3 separate regions of the Homo sapiens genome follow, and regions 2 and 3 are each linked to region 1. The links come from fine-mapping of genetic effects on gene expression. A gene starts in region 1. Each other region holds a variant in brackets. All regions are shown on one strand. Distances are from middle to middle.

What was found. PIP is the estimated chance that this variant, and not a neighbour inherited with it, causes the effect.
Region 2: its variant is the best candidate, but not a certain one, in a credible set for the expression of GPC6 in aorta (GTEx, PIP 0.69).
Region 3: its variant is the best candidate, but not a certain one, in a credible set for the expression of GPC6 in atrial appendage (GTEx, PIP 0.82).

What each region holds. Positions count from the first base shown.
Region 1 is chr13:93,224,484-93,229,715 of GRCh38, reverse strand. It overlaps GPC6 (glypican 6), which reads right to left and starts at 2,909. Exons shown (of 9, transcript NM_005708.5): 1 at 2,100-2,909. The coding sequence starts at 2,259. RefSeq lists a silencer at 1,126-1,420 and enhancers at 1,474-2,316, 4,723-5,232.
Region 2 is chr13:93,761,352-93,766,583 of GRCh38, reverse strand. All of the region lies in intron 2 of GPC6 (glypican 6), which reads right to left. Among named protein-coding and RNA genes, the nearest start is that of GPC6-AS2, 95 kb to the left of the region's middle. The variant C/T (reference allele first, on the strand shown) is at 2,836.
Region 3 is chr13:93,769,009-93,774,240 of GRCh38, reverse strand. The region is part of intron 2 of GPC6 (glypican 6); the gene reads right to left. Among named protein-coding and RNA genes, the nearest start is that of GPC6-AS2, 87 kb to the left of the region's middle. The variant T/G (reference allele first, on the strand shown) is at 2,998.

The DNA.
Region 1 (5,232 bases):
AGTGCACACATTTTAGAAATTCATAGCTAATAAGCAAACACTGTAATTGTAAAAAGGTGGGGAGGAAACCAAAAACAAAAACAAAAACCTCTTTAGTTAAATATCCACCGAAGAATTTACATGAACCCCTGGGAATGTTCTCAACAAACATTCATGGTGACTACAGAAATTGTTTTACACTGAAAATCTTCACTTTGATATTAAAGAGATGTGCCTGATGCTGAGGATGAACTCTAGTCTCCTGAGAGTCCCATTATCCTCTAAAGAATACCGAAGCAATTTAAAAATACCTAACTATTTTCTTCTTTGAGACATCTTATCTGAAATCATGTTGGGAAATATCTTGTGTGCTTAAAAGATACCGTTTGAAAAAGCCCAGATTAAAGGAGAAAAAGTTCCTAGAAGAAGTGATCCATACTATAAACCTTTTAAAAAGTTGAATTCCCTGAGATTTGGGGAGGGAAAAAAAAAAGCGAAGCTGATCCTTATCAATTAATTAAAAAGAATGAAATAACAGTAGACAAAGGAGAAGGAGAGTTAAGAAACTTAAGGAGCTGTGGGGACAGTCGCTCTCTATTCATTGATTAACAAATTAAGGAGTTCTGGAAAAGAAGGAAGAAGTAACAAGGATAGAAAAGTAGGCTTATAATTCACCACAGATTCTAACTTAGACTCAGCAAAGGGAATGTCTGGCTCTGAACTGAAAAAGCTCCTTCTATATAATGAGCGTGGTAATTTGCGCCTCTTTTTTTCCCCCTTTGCCAATGCTCAAATTTATTTAAATGTGTTCATTTCAGTGTAAGTAAAAACCCTCACTTCTACAGCTTGAAAATCATAAGAAAATAGTAATTCCTCAACGTATCGAAACTGTGATGTTCTAAGATATCTGCAAAATGCTTTTCATCCATCCACCAGTTATTTGGCAAAAAGCAGACAGAGGCTGGTGGAAATTCAGCGTTTTGACTTGACGATCTGAGGTCACTAAGGACTTCAGCTGCCCGGTTTGAGCAGCCCGCGCCCTCGCAGCATCTCCTGGCCTCCCTCGGCCTCTCTCAGTTCTGTTCTTTAGCAGCCAAAGGATTATCTCTCCCCGACACGTTTCATTCACAGAGCCCCAGAGAAGCTCGGATTCGGTTGGAGCTAAGAGCCGGAAAACAAGCACCCAGACTGCCGCGCAAGTTGTCGGAGACCAAGTGCTACACACACTGGCGCCGAGAGAAAGGGTGGGCGCTCTCAAGCTCTTGGTGGAGCAATGCCAGTGGCCGGGCATGCGGGGGACACGGGGCCCCCGAACCCGGACCCGAATCCCCAGCTGAGCCACCCGCTAAAGTTGGCTGTTCGCTGGCAGACGAGGCCGGCTCCAGACCGGGTGGCAGGGTGTCCCCGGGCCCTGAGTGGCCAACAGCAACTGGGGAAGCACTGAGGAACCCTAACGGGAAAGCCCGCCCCACATCTGAAACAGGCAGCCCGTGAAGTCCCCAAACCAGCCTTGAAACGCCGGCGTCCAGAGGCCAGGTCCCCGGCGAGGGTCCCTCCCAGCCTTGCCCGCCCCCGGCCCGAGCGCCGGGCGCTCTGTCGCCCGAAGGACGGATAGGGGAGAGAGGGGCTGGGGGAGCCCTCCGCGTCTCTCCACCGCCCCTGCCGGCGCAAGGGCGGGAGTGGAGAAGGCGCCACTCAGACTGTGGCGCTGGGCAAACTGCGGTCGCAGTTCTTCCAAGTTTGCCCGAACCAGAACGCGGAGTGAGCGCCCGGCTCGGCTCTCCGTCTGCGCCTTGCAGCCGCCCCGGAGTGACCCGGGCTCCCTGGCCAGCCGGGCCTGAGCCATCAACTAAGGGGTAGAAGGGCGCGAGAGCAGCGGGAGGCGGGAGCCAGGGTGCTCCCGCGTGTGCACACAATGAGGCGGCGGAGACGCACACCTTCCCCCGCCGAAGAAGCCGCAGGAGCATCCGCCGCCCAACACGGAGACGCGGAGTCCCATAGCGGTGGCAGAAAGTGAGCACCAACTCAGCAACAGGGGGAAGGAAGGGGACGCCGGGCGGCCAGTGGGACGTGCGGCAGCCGAGGGCTGCAGCCTGCCCCTGCAGCGCGCCCGCGCTTACCTGCGATCTCCTGGTAGGGGATGTCCGCCAGGCTGAATCCCTTGGCACCGTACGCCTGGCGGACCTCTCCGCAGCTCCGAGCCTTCACATCCGCCCCGGCGGGGAGGGAGAGCAGCAGCCCCAAGAGGGGAAGAATCACAGCCCCGATCCAAGAAGGCATGGTGCAACATACAAATCCAGCTCGGTAAACCCCACGGCCGGTGCGCTCTTCACCTTGCCCCTCAAGCCGAAAGCCCGCCAGAGGCAGCGGCGCGCTCCTCGCCGCTGCCCAGCGTCACCCCCTTCTGCCAGCCGAGGGGACGAGCAGCGCAGCCCTCTGGACTGCGCTCAGCAAACTTTTATAAGCCAGATGGACGATGGCAAGCCAACAAGGGCTGGCTGGGAAGGCTGCTGCCTTGCTCCTCTAGCCCCCAGATGGAAACGGTGCAATCAAAACGAGGAAGAGAAGGAAAAGAAGTGTTTAAAAAACCACCATGGGGGTTCAGAGCTGCAATCCGAGTTCCGAGCCGCAGAATCCTGGAGCGCTGCGGGCTCGGCTCGCCGGAGTGTGCGGCAAAGGTGGGAGCGCGCGCCGGCTCCCCCGGGAGGGAGATGGACAAGCGAGAGCGAGTGTGTATGCGCGCGTGTGTCTGTTGGTGTGAGCTCGAGGTTCTTGGGGATGTGTGTGCGTGGAGGTATGTGTTGGGGATATACGAGATCTAGGGGAAACCTCAGCTTAACACAGGCTGTGGGAGCCTGTGAGAGTCCTCCTGAAATAGGAAGAGAGAAATCCTGGAGACAGTCACTGGAGGCAAGAGGGAAGGAGAAAGGAGGGGGGAGAAAGAAACGTGCTACACATTGCACAGCCGAAATTCACAGGCCGAGTCAAAGGCAAAACCTGGACTGGATCTCTTCCTAGTCGGTAGAAAGGGGAAAAAAAGAAAAAGAAACGTACCTATTTTCTTATTCACTTCACATCCTTTATACCGATCTGAAATGACATCAATAAACAATCTAGAAAGACAAGGTAATTTTAAGTCATTAACATGTTATTAAGCTGTATTTTTATGGAGGTAAAGGATAACGCAGTTCCAATTGTTGCTCTTAATATGTGTCCCTGACCTACTGAAACACAAAGCCAGAGTGGAAATAGTCATAGACGGGAGTTCATGGGTGGCAGAGCACAATCACGGCTCTAACTAGTTGCCTAATTTCTGTTTGACTTTGTTTTTTTCTAAAGGCACACATTACAGACTGGTAGTTCTTAATTTTTAAAGGTTTGGTTCTAGACTCAACAATTTCCCCTTTTTTTATTTCAAATATCTCATAGCCTTCGATCAGAAATCATTATGCTTAGGTTTCTAATGTGTGGAGGATCGGGAAAGCTAACAACCAGACCACAGAAGCAACAAGAAAAGGAGAGCACAAGGGTCAGAGGTGCATAAAGGGACATAATGGGGGAAGGGAGGTGATTCCTTCCCTCTCACTAGATGCCCTCACATAGTAGACTTAACATTTTCTTCCAAGTTAACATAATTCTCAAGTGGAGAATCAATCCAATTTCTTCTTCCTGTCTCCATTTACACTGATGTTCTGTGAACGGGATAAAAGTGAAAATTCAGGTTTGCCTAATTGACTTTGTTATGCTAATGGACGCACTAAAGTCAGCTGGCAGAAGTGTGTGTTGAAACCCAGAGCTCCTGAAACTACTAAGATAGTTTAATGAAAACCAAGACAAAATAATAATAATAATAGTGTTTATTCACTTACGTGGCTATGTGTCATAGGTCAGCACATTATTCACAAACTACTACAAGGTAATGCACAGTTTTGTGGAGCTCACCTATGAAGCTACACATGAAGATGTTTTCCTGATGATGATATGAATGACCAGAATGACTCATGAAGTTTAAATCTTTGAGTTTGTCATTATCATCACAACATATTAGGTACATTGTCTTCCTCTCTTTAATAAATTCCCCCTCTCCTAACCACCAAAAAGACTCTCAAGATTCAACCTCATTTAACCTTTCCAAACGCTTTAAAAATGAAGTCGACTTATTTACAGAGCCACTTTGTCTTCTTCAAACTCATAGGTCAAGACAAAACAAAACCAAAAAAAAAAAAAACAAAACAAAACAAAAAAAAAAACTCCATAGCTAAATCTTTCTGAAAACGCAACACACTTAACTTTTTTTCTCTTAAAATTTTAGCACAGTTTTTTGCTTTCACAATATTTATGCTAACTGGCAGATCTTAAATCACTGAACTTATTTTCCCTCAAGTCGGAAATCAAGATAAAATATATTCTGGTTATGTTTGTGGACAAACGGTGAGGTTGATAGGCTCAGGAATTGCAGTCAAGTTATTACTTCTGTCATATTTGACAACGTGACTTCCTTCAAACTTCTCTTTGTATCATAGTAAAGCATTATGCACTCCAGAGGAAGAGGGTAAAAACACACACTTCCTGTCCTACCACCTTATCCTGGGACTCATTGTAATTTACCCTGACTCAGTATAGCAGATAATTCATTATTTTAAATGGAGGTAAAGGAAGAATGGGTAAAAGCATAGTATATGTGGTTTTAAATTATTTGAAGATCAGCTAATTGTTAAGTATTGAATGAGCACTCAATACAACTTTATAGCACTAGACTATTGCACACCGTCCCTATACTTATAAAATGATCTTAGGATTTGTGGCAAAGATATTACATGAGACGAATGACTAAATAGATTAGTTTAATTCCATCAGGAGAGTCAAATAGTTTAGGGTAGGTTTGTGAACTCAAGTCAGACCAAAGAATTAGATAACTTGCTTTACTGGTGACCTTAACCCTGCCTGGTCCATTTGTTGAGTAATGTCACACTGTTTGCAGTGGTGTAAGAGACAAAGTCAAACATTCCAGTTAACACTGAGAGCCACAGCAGGAGCCTAGACAAGGGATTGGAATGAGAATGGAATGTTATGGAAGTTCCTGGAAGAGGCCTGACCAGACAGGAGAGAGGTCATATGGAGGAGCAGGCATCTGGTTTAGACAAAAAGGTCAGCTAATGGCTGGAATCCTAGCTGTAGTATTCATCTTGTGTGTAGTAGGAAAAAAGAATATGGATAAATGCCATACAAGAGGAAGCAAACGAGGCCAGGCAC
Region 2 (5,232 bases), 540 kb before region 1:
TATCAATACTCTTTTTAAATTTTTATTTCAAATTCCATTGGCAGTATATTATTTTCATTTATTTATTTACCTTTTATAAAATTATAGTAAGAACACTTAACATATTATCTACCCTCCTAACAAAATTTTAAATGCACAATATAGTATTGTTAACGATGGGCACAATGCTATTCAGCAGATCTCTAGAGCTCATTCATCTTTTAATTTAATGCAATTGATTAACTGGACTTCTTAACAAAGGAAAAGTTTCAGACTTGAAACTTACCCATGCAAAATCCATTAATGACTGCACTATGACTTGGTCGTATTTCCAAGGATTCAGGAGACATCTGCAGATCTCCTTCAATTTTATAATTTCATTAAAAACGGCATCATTTGAATTCTTAATTCTTTTGCTGAATAACTTCTGAAAATTTTTATAAAGTTTATATTTGAATAGGAACAGAAATCTGTACTGATTAAGACCTATACAACTTAAAACATAGCCTTTTCTTTGCACATGACTGCAAACACCACCAAAATATCAGAACACCCATGGTATGACTTGAGTGAGGTCTCAAAGGTCAAGGTATCTACTACTACTGTAAAGTTGAAACTTATGGCTCATTTGTCATTGACGTAATGTACTAACATAGGAGGCAAGGTTGCATTTGGGCTAACAGCTTGAGTTTTACAAATGTTAACTTTTATCCATGATATCAAAAGGTTAACTTTCAAAAAAAGTGAAACAACTTGAGAACAGCTCCATGTTATTCTTGGAGGCACAGGCCCATTCCATGAAGTGAAAATTCTCTTAACAGGAATAATAGCAATGATTTTACTTTTAAGAGGTCAGCACTAGAATCAGATCAGATACCTTTGCATTTCATTAATTGTCCTGTATTTCTGTAGCTTTAGGGTGCTATGTAATTTACCACTGTGAATGTTTGTTAAGTGGGACAATAATTATCCCAAAGATTAACCTTACTATGAATAATGCAGGTAACCTGGGGCATACATTAATTCTGTGACAAAGTTTTGACTTCTCCATATGATTCTATTTTCTAGAAGGCACAGAAGTGAAAATGTAAGTTAAACTCATCTCATTTTTTTTAAAAAAGTTTATAATATAAATAGTATATATTAATGGAAGAGAAATGAAATTTATATCCCTTAAACCTTCCTTAGTAAAATCCTTAAATATTATGTTTGGCCATTTTTCATGCATCTTTATCAACTGTAACATCTGGTTGCATATATTTATAAGTACAAAGATTTCTAATACTTAAACCAAATAAGTTGTCTTTCCAGACAGCTTATCTGGAAAGTTGTCTTTCCAGACAGCTTATCTGGAAAGTTGTCTTTCCAGACAATTTATCTTTTTTCATAAAAAGATAATGGTCTATGGTCTATAAAAATGTGTTTATTTCAATTACATAGAGAATCTAGGTATATCTAAATGGACCTATAAAAACATATGCTTATGAATTGTTTAAAAAATCTTGTGGGCATGCCCGGTGGCTCACGCCTGTAATCCCAGCACTTTGGGAGGCTGAGGAGGGTGGATCGCGAGGTCAGGAGATTGAGACCATCCTGGTTAACGTGGTGAAACCCTGTCTCTACTAAAAATACAAAAAATTAGCTGGACGTGGTGGCACGCGCCTGTAGTCCCAGCTACTCGGGAGGCTGAGGCAGCAGAATCACTTGAACCCAGGAGGCGGAGCTTGTAGTGAGCTGAGATCACGCCACTACACTCCAGCCTGGGCAAGAGAGCAAGACTCTGTCTAAAAAATAAATAAATAAATAAAAACATTGTATTAGTTTTTTCTGAATGACTTAATTCTAGTCTTCCAGGACTATATTTTCTCCTTCTGTTGCTCTTTTAACTGTGGCTTTGACCATGCACCCCTTCTGCCTCTAACCTCACACAATGGTTTTGTTAACATAGATATGTCATTAATATGGTTATAGGTGGCCTTTGTGAGTGTGTGTGGTGTGTGTGTGTGTGTGTGTGTGTGTGTTTACATCTTTATTTTTTTCTCATAAATAACTTTCATATTCTTTAAAAAAAAGGTACAAAAAATATCCCAAAAAGTCTCAAATTTTGGTGGTCCATCTGTGGCACTAATTAATTTATTCCTAGTAGATATGAACCAAACACTATACTAAAGTTTAAAATAAAATGTTTGGAGTTATCAAGGTCCATTTGAAAAACCAATCCACATAAGAAATTATTTTTATAAAGGCATGTTAAAAATGGCAAGGTCAAATATAACAAAATATTACAAACACATCACTTCCTAAAAATGCTATTGTTGCATATAATGAAAGGTAGCATTTTGTAGGATTGGAGGAGTCTGATTTGTTTATTCCCCTCTCCTCAACAAATCAGACCCCTCCAATCTTACAAAATACATAGCAAAGGGTCTAACATATAGCAAAAGGTCTACTATATATTAGAGGCTTAGAAGCTTAGGACTAGGTATCTAAATTAAGAGGAGTATCTCTAAGAAAGTGGGATAGTTGGGCTTTAGGTGCTTAGGTGATTGGCAGGGAGGTACCTATTGAGGAATTCAAAAGGAATCAGTAGATCCGATCTGTGATATAAGTGCAAAGGTTTGAAAGGACAACAACTTATTAAAACAAGGGTATAGACAGTGTTTCCTGACATTCTATGCAAGGAAAGCCACATAGAATATGTGTGGTAGATATTTATGGAATGGGATAAAGGAGAGAGTCTTGCAGGGTGAAGCATGGCCTAGATAAAAAAAAAAAATAAAGATGAAGGGTTTGCTAATTATTCCAACATCTCAAATCTTGGGGAGAAAGCGTAGGGTCAGCAAGTTAATGCTAACA[C/T]AGCAACATGTTATTGGGGGAAAGCAGATAATTTACAAAGTGCACAAATTCTGCTGACAGATATTTCTTTTTAGAAATCAGAAGATGTCTTGGCTGAAATATCCTATGATAAATCATGGGAGTTTGGAAAGAACAGTTGTCCAGGATGTCTTTGAGGACTATATTTGAAACTTGTATCACATAGATTACTTTATTTCTTGAGAACTCCTTGAATGATGCCTGATGGTAATGGAAAACCTCTCCGAGAGAGTAGGTGCAGGGAAACAGCTGGGGGCTACCCAAAGTCCTATGATATGAGAGGATAGGGGCAAGTAGCCCTTCTGGGGCTTCATTCTGAGAACTCCATCTGCACAGAAAGAGCCACCTCACCACCTTGCCCTTTGATTGTAGGCTATGCAATGTGATGTATGATTGATGAAATTGTGCTATTCTTTGCTCCATGCATCATAGGGAATCAAAGAGTCCAGCTGATCATGGCAACAAAACCTCTGCTTACCACAAGTGAACTTGCATCACTAAGAAGCAACCTATGTCTAATGACCTTCAGAGTGTCTACCCCCAGTGGTAAATTACAGAAGTAATCAATAACATAGTAAAACTGTCTAGTCTAGTATATCAGAGCGACACTGAATTAATAGTTGCTCTTTATTGATTATCCTATCATGAAAACGGAGAATTTGGGAAATAACTGACTGTCTTAGTTCCAGTCAAGTTATTGAGAAATGAAAAGTATAAAGCACTCCAGCTAACTGGGCCTCAAATATAAATCTTTTCCAAGGTGCACTCTATTACTCACAGCTTGTCAGTCGTATCTCAGCTGAAGGATTTATGCAATGTCTTCTTGGCACAGGGGCAATCTACTATAATTACCTACGTGCAGAATTGCTCTCAAATAGCATAAATGGTGGGTGACAGTTATGAATCCCAATTAGTATGGTCGCCAATCATTCAACGAGTAAATTGATCTGTATTTTATCTGTATACCAGCACATCAGAACCTGACTTAGAACAATAGTATAGATTTATCCATAAAGGCTGGTTAGGTCATTTTTTAATTTGCATAATATTTTTTGAAAAACCTAATTTTCTTTCCTTAAAGGTGACAGCCAAGTCAAGCATAACCTTTTATTTTAAAGTTCCCTGCCAGTCCATAAATCCCACTCTACTGCATGCTTTGTAACTCTCAGTAGCTTCTTTCTCCTTCACCTGCCTGTTGTTCCAGGATCTTCTGTATCCATGCTTACAGCTCCATTCTGGGCAGACAACCTTATATCCCTAGAACCTTGCTTTTACACTGACCACAGGTCAAGAAGCATTTATTGATTCATATAATCAGTTGCAACTCTGACCGAGGGATTCCTGAGAGAATGATCATTATGCTTCCAATAGCAGACATCAGGAAATACACTATCAACGAAATTTCCTGGTTTTGGAGGCTGTAGGATTTCAGAACTGCATTAGACTGTTTCTAATTTCTAAAGACAAAGAGGAAGAATATTAATTTTCTTATTGTTTGGCCACCATGATAATAGCATTCTGTTTTTAAAGGAAATTCTGTCATTTGTGACAACATGGATGAACCTTACATTAAGTGAAATAAGCCAGGGACAGAAAGACAAATATCACAGAATCTCACTTATGTGTGGGGTGTAAAAAATCAAACTTTCAGAGATTGAGAGTAGAACAGTGATTACCAGAGGCTGACGGGAGGAAGGGGAAAAGGAGAGTCAATGGAGAAAGGAAAGACACTGGTGAAAATGTACGAAGTTTTAGTTAGATGGGAGGAATGACTTCTGGTGTTCTATTGGACAGATGGCAACTATGGTTAATAATAATGTATATTTCCAAAAAGCTAAAAGAGTGGATTTTAAATGTTCTCATCACAAAAAAATGATAGTATTTCAGATGACTAATGTGTTAATTATGCTTATTTGATTATTCTACAGTACATACATATATTGAAAATTACACTGTACCCCATAAATATATCTAATTAATAATTTTTCATTAAAAATAAAAAATAGCAGCCTGTGCAACATAGCAATACCCTGTCTCTACAAACAATAATTTTAAAAAATTAGCCCGGTGTGGTGGTGCATGCCTGTAGTCCTAGCTGAGGTAGGAGGATCACTTGAGTCTAGGAGCTCTAGGTTGCAGGGAGCTATGATTGCACCACTGCACTGCAGCCTGGGCACCAGAGCAAGATGACCCTGTCTCTATTTAAAAATTTTAAAACTAAAAAGCAAAGCTTAACAAATTATTTTTCACAGGTATAGCAGGAGATAGGGGTGGGGTAGGAGGGAGAAGACTTAATTGTCTTAAGCATGACACAGACTTCTGAAAAATAAATTTCCTGCAAACTGAAGATGTGCCTCCATGTGCTAGTTTCTAATCTGT
Region 3 (5,232 bases), 540 kb before region 1:
AATGTTCCAGTTCTACTCTCCTGGCCACCTGCGTTACTTAGGAATAGTGCCTACAGGAAAAACGACACCTGGCTGGCAAATTGGTCTATACATATCTGGAACAGTCTTCATAGTTTTGAGTGTCCCTGAATGTGGTGACTTTTCTAACTGGCATGCCCCATGTCATATACAATGGCAGCTATGCCCACGGATCTGTCAGAAGTATTGGTTCCATTGGAGGCATGAGGCATCTAAGCCAAAGCAGTTCTTCTGACTGTCTGATCTCAACATGTCTTCTTACACCTGAACTGTCTGCTGCATGGCAAAATGATGTCTATTGGGCACTACGTACTGCTATAAAATCTCTCCCTTAAAAGAAGATTTTAAGTTGCTCTGCTGGCAAGTTGTACTTTCATCCCATTCCTTTTTGATGAATCTGATGCCAGTATAGCCAATGGCAATCTCTTGTAAGACTCAATGCTTGTTATTAAAGTCTAAACAGCAGAGACCCTAGTGGGTGAGGCAGGAGTGGTAACGGTTTGATGGCTATGAAAATCACAGATAATATTTTGAAAAGGAGTTGCCAAATCAAAGGGCATAGACTGAACCCGTGAAACGTAGGTGAGAAAACCATGGGCTCAAGTACTGATTAGCTAAGGAATTTTGCAGAGAAGCAACTTAAAACTACACAGGAACCCCTACAGTCACATACCATAAGACTGAGTGAGGCAGAAGGATGAGGAATGGACCATTTTAAATCTACTTGGAAAGATTTTGGGGTACGTAAGCTACATCAAAAAAAAAATCAGCTGCATACTGAAGCTGAATAGACATTCCCTGTCTTTTTCATCATCAATTTCCAGAGCCCAGAATAGGATATGTCTCAATGGGGTCTCTGAGATGCTTATTGATGAACCATCTCTAAGATTATGACATATATGCCTTCATGTTAACTTATTTAATTTATACGTAAAGTTGTTACTCAGAATATAACATTGTATTATTAAAGAGAGTTCCTGAAAAAGTGAATCCATCATGCAGGCTTTATTCATGACTTTTACTAATTCTGTCATTAAGTGGCAGTATTACTAACTAGAGTGGCATTTTGCTTTTTCTTTAAACAATCTCCATTTCTTATTCTCTCCTAGTTTTTCTTTTTTCTTTTTGCTGAATTCTTAACAGAAGTGCCTTCCTTGTGAGGATAAGCAGTGTCCTGTCATAACCTACTATATATTGGAAAAAACTACAGAGAAAATGTCCCACCGGGAACATGGTAGAGAACAAGACCTTTGAGTAGAAAGAATTCTGGTTTTTTAGATGATAACAACTTTTCCTAGCACTTTATCCATCCTTCAAAGCAGCATCCATAATAAAAATGGACCACAGAAGGGAGTTGAAAACTCCAGATTCTGACCAGAACAATTCCTTAGAATGATAGTGCATCTGGGCACTTGGCCCTCAGGCTCCAGGAGACAGGGCTCTTCATCTGAGGACCGAGGATAAGGATGTGTCTGGCAAGACCCTGTGCAGGACCAACATTCTGAATTTCATTACTCTTCCTCCACACCCCAGCTTCTATCAGGACAGCATCCTTCCATTTGCTTTGCCTTTGATTTCTTTCCACGTAAAAAATTATAGGACTTTCCTAACCAAACTTCTTTTTTTCTTGTTTCTCTTCCTTGTGTATATATCGCCTTTTAATATTTCTGAAGTACACCTGTTTTTAAAACTCTTCCTCTCAATGATGCCTCTCTGCTCATCACAAGATGTCCAAAGTTAGATTGTCCCACTGAAATCCTTCTTTCTATCCTTGAAAACTCCATGTAATGCATGAAATCCATATTTAATACAAGGTAGGAGTGACCAAGCAGGAGACAACAGGGCTTTAGCTGTTGCAAACCCAAGTGAGCACACTTAGGTCTATTGTTCAATTTAATAGTCAATGACCCTTCCTGACAGAGGGTGATGTGTTTTCTCACAGACATCTGTAAACCTAACCAATGCCGATATCTTCATAGATATGAACAAAAAATGCATACAGAAGCAATAAATCATCCTACAGTTATCTAATATTAGTTGATGCCATTACTTTTCTTTATCATCAGTGACATTTTATTACTATTTTTGTTGCTTAATTCTCAAAAGTGCACTGAGCCTATACTACATAAAAGGTAATGCATTAAGGGCTATGGGCCAAAAGCATATTGTCAGATATGATATGGAAATTCTTCTTCCAAACGCTTCAAAAATTATAATTTGTGAGTCACTGAACCAAGCAGAACTGTGGTTTTGGCAACCTGGATATACACTCCCACCACAGTGCTAATCTTCAGCAGGCAGAACAAGGTACAATGAACTCTGAACTTTTGTTATTAAAACTAATCTAAGTTTGATTCCCCACAGGCTTAAAATTTATAGGAGAAGAAACATTTTCATGTTCCTTATTTGGTCATTTAAATATTATGATGGTTTCTCTTTAGTGATTCACATTCCTTTCCTATCAACTGTGGATCTCCTATGCTTGACTTTTTTTATTATTATTATACTTTAAGTTTTAGGGTACATGTGCACATTGTGCAGGTTAGTTACATATGTATACATGTGCCATGCTGGTGCACTGCACCCACTAACTCGTCATCTAGCATTAGGTATTTACTTTATTTTAAAATGGCAAATGAGGAAACAAACAAAAGGGGACTGCACAGCTTGTTGTGAACCAAGACAAAGAACTTGTAATCCTGGGACTCCTCAAAGCTCACCAAATTCCATTCAACCCTTCATAAAGCTAACCTGCAGAGTGCACTCCCCGACACGTGTGAGACAAATGAGATGCGATGAGAGATGAAGCCAAAAAAGCAGCACTCCCCTGTGTCTTCAATTAGCCACGGAGTGAAAATGAGACAAACAGTCATGTATAATTTAGAGGCTTGCTCTCCGGTTCTTCCTGCCGTGGGAAGCCTTTCACCGAGGAAGGAAGCGTGATCCAGTAAAGTGCTCAGGCTTGGGAGTGGGCCTTGT[T/G]GGGTTGTGTTTCCAGTTAGTTCACTGATGTACTTTGTGACCTTGTATGCAACTTAATTTCTATCAAAGTGGCTGAAACAACTTGCTTTTAAAGATGACTTGTTTGCTTATTCTGGGGAGGGGCAATGCCAGCAGTCCTTCAGTGTATGTGTTATCAATATGTTTGGCACAGAACAGACTGAATGAGCAAATGGCTTGATCTGTGAGACAATGCAGATTACTGAGACTGTAGGATAATGCAACAAGGAGTGCTGGATGATGTTACAAAGCACATCCTCTGCTACCTAGAGGGTTACGTTACGTTTTATGATTTCATCAGTCAACAAATTGAGAACCATCCTAAGGATGAAAAAAAAAACTACTTAAGTAAGTGCCAAATAAGTCTGTAACCTTATTTGACCAAGAAAGTATGGGGGAGAAAAGGATTTATTTCTAGAGGAAGTGGGTCTTGGTCTAATATTAGCCTTAAGTTGAAGTGCTGAGAACTAGATAGAGAGTTGCAGGGTTGATGTCTGCAAGCAAATTTCAAAAAGCAGTTGCTGGGTCTGGGAATAGACACTACTGAGGAAGAAATCATTACAGTCCATAGAAGAATCCAGAAAGAAGGTGGGTAGAATCCCTCTCCTATCATGGGAAGTGTGGATAAGCCTTTCTACCTCCACAAAGCTTCTGAGGCACAGCCCCTTTGAGTCAGAGAGAGAAAGTCCAGTTAGCACACTAGCTAAGAGGGCCTGTCTTGGAAGAAGATGATATAACACATCACAGCTCAAAGAAATGGTGGCATGCCTCAGACCACTGCCGGCTTAGGAGACCAGTGAGAAACTTCCTTTACCAAAGATTAGTATTCCAGGAAGCCAAGAAGAAAATAAATACCTTTGGACCTAAAGAGAAATAATATGTAACATTCATTGAACACTTAGTATCAGGCATTACATTAAGTGCTTTACATATTTTATCTCATTTAATTCTAAAACCAATGTTATGAGATTGTTGCTCTCATTATATGTAATAAACCACGCAATAACTAAAAAATATGCAAAAATAAAAATAGATAAGTAACATAACTATTTTATACCCATAAAAGTGGGGGTTGTATGGTTTTTTAGAATAATTAGGATGGAAAGATGGAAAGCAGACAGATGCATGCACTATTTTGGCCCTCATCTTCAACCCTAAATAGGGTAACTAAATGTCTCAATTTACTCAGAAGTATTCAGGCTTTAGCACACAGCTCAGGAAATCCTTCGTTCCTTGGCAAACCATAATGGTTGGTGATCCCATTCCCCCAACTACTAAATTTTGAACTACTTGGCAAATAAATACAGAGATTTAAGCCCCAGTATGTCTGGAGTCAAGTCAAAGCATGTTTTGCTTTAACAATTTTCCAGGTGATGCTGGTGCCTACCAAGATTGGAAAAACACTGACTGCAGCTGAAAGAATACAGGTAAAGCATGAATCATCCTTCCCAGGCCTGCATTTATTTAGAGGTTGTGTGTGCAAGCCAACTTCTGCCTTCCACTTAATTCCCATCTGGTTGAGGTGCCAAGCCACCCATAAAATAACTATAGATTGAAAGCAAAGCAAAGCAAGTGTGCAAGCACAAAGAGAAAAGTTAATTAAAAATATGGAAGGGGTAAGAGTGTAGAAATAAGGTGAATGAATGGATATCAGGAGAAGAGGAGTGCAAGAGGAAAGCAGTGCCTGGGTTTGGAGGTTTGGAAGGGAAAGCTGTGGAGAAAGGTGATCCTCCCAGACTCTGCGCACATCTTCTCCCTGCTGCTTTTTGGGGCTGTCTTTTTTTTTTTTTTTGTCACGTGCAGCAGCCACTCACAGCTTGTGTTTCTCTGAAACTTGGATCATTTTACCAGCTATTTAATAAGACTAAATAAATGGTGTCAGCATCAGAAAGCATTGCACATTTTGTTTAGAGACGTGTACATTCCTTCTTGCTATTAAACTGTGATAACTTTTGGCAAGAATATTACTTTGCTCTGTCTTCTCTGAGAAGAAATTTTCCTTCTGTTCTCACATGGCCATTGAAGAAACAAAGACTACCATATTTAATGGAAGACAAAAGGGCATGCATTTGGGAAAATATTGACTTAGAAAACCTTATCCCTGAGAAAAAGATTGTAAGGGAATGAGCCGATGAAAAATCCCATGTGATTTACAGAATTTAGAAACTTCTTTTTTTGCTAATGTTAATTTATCACTTAAAATTGACCCAGAACATT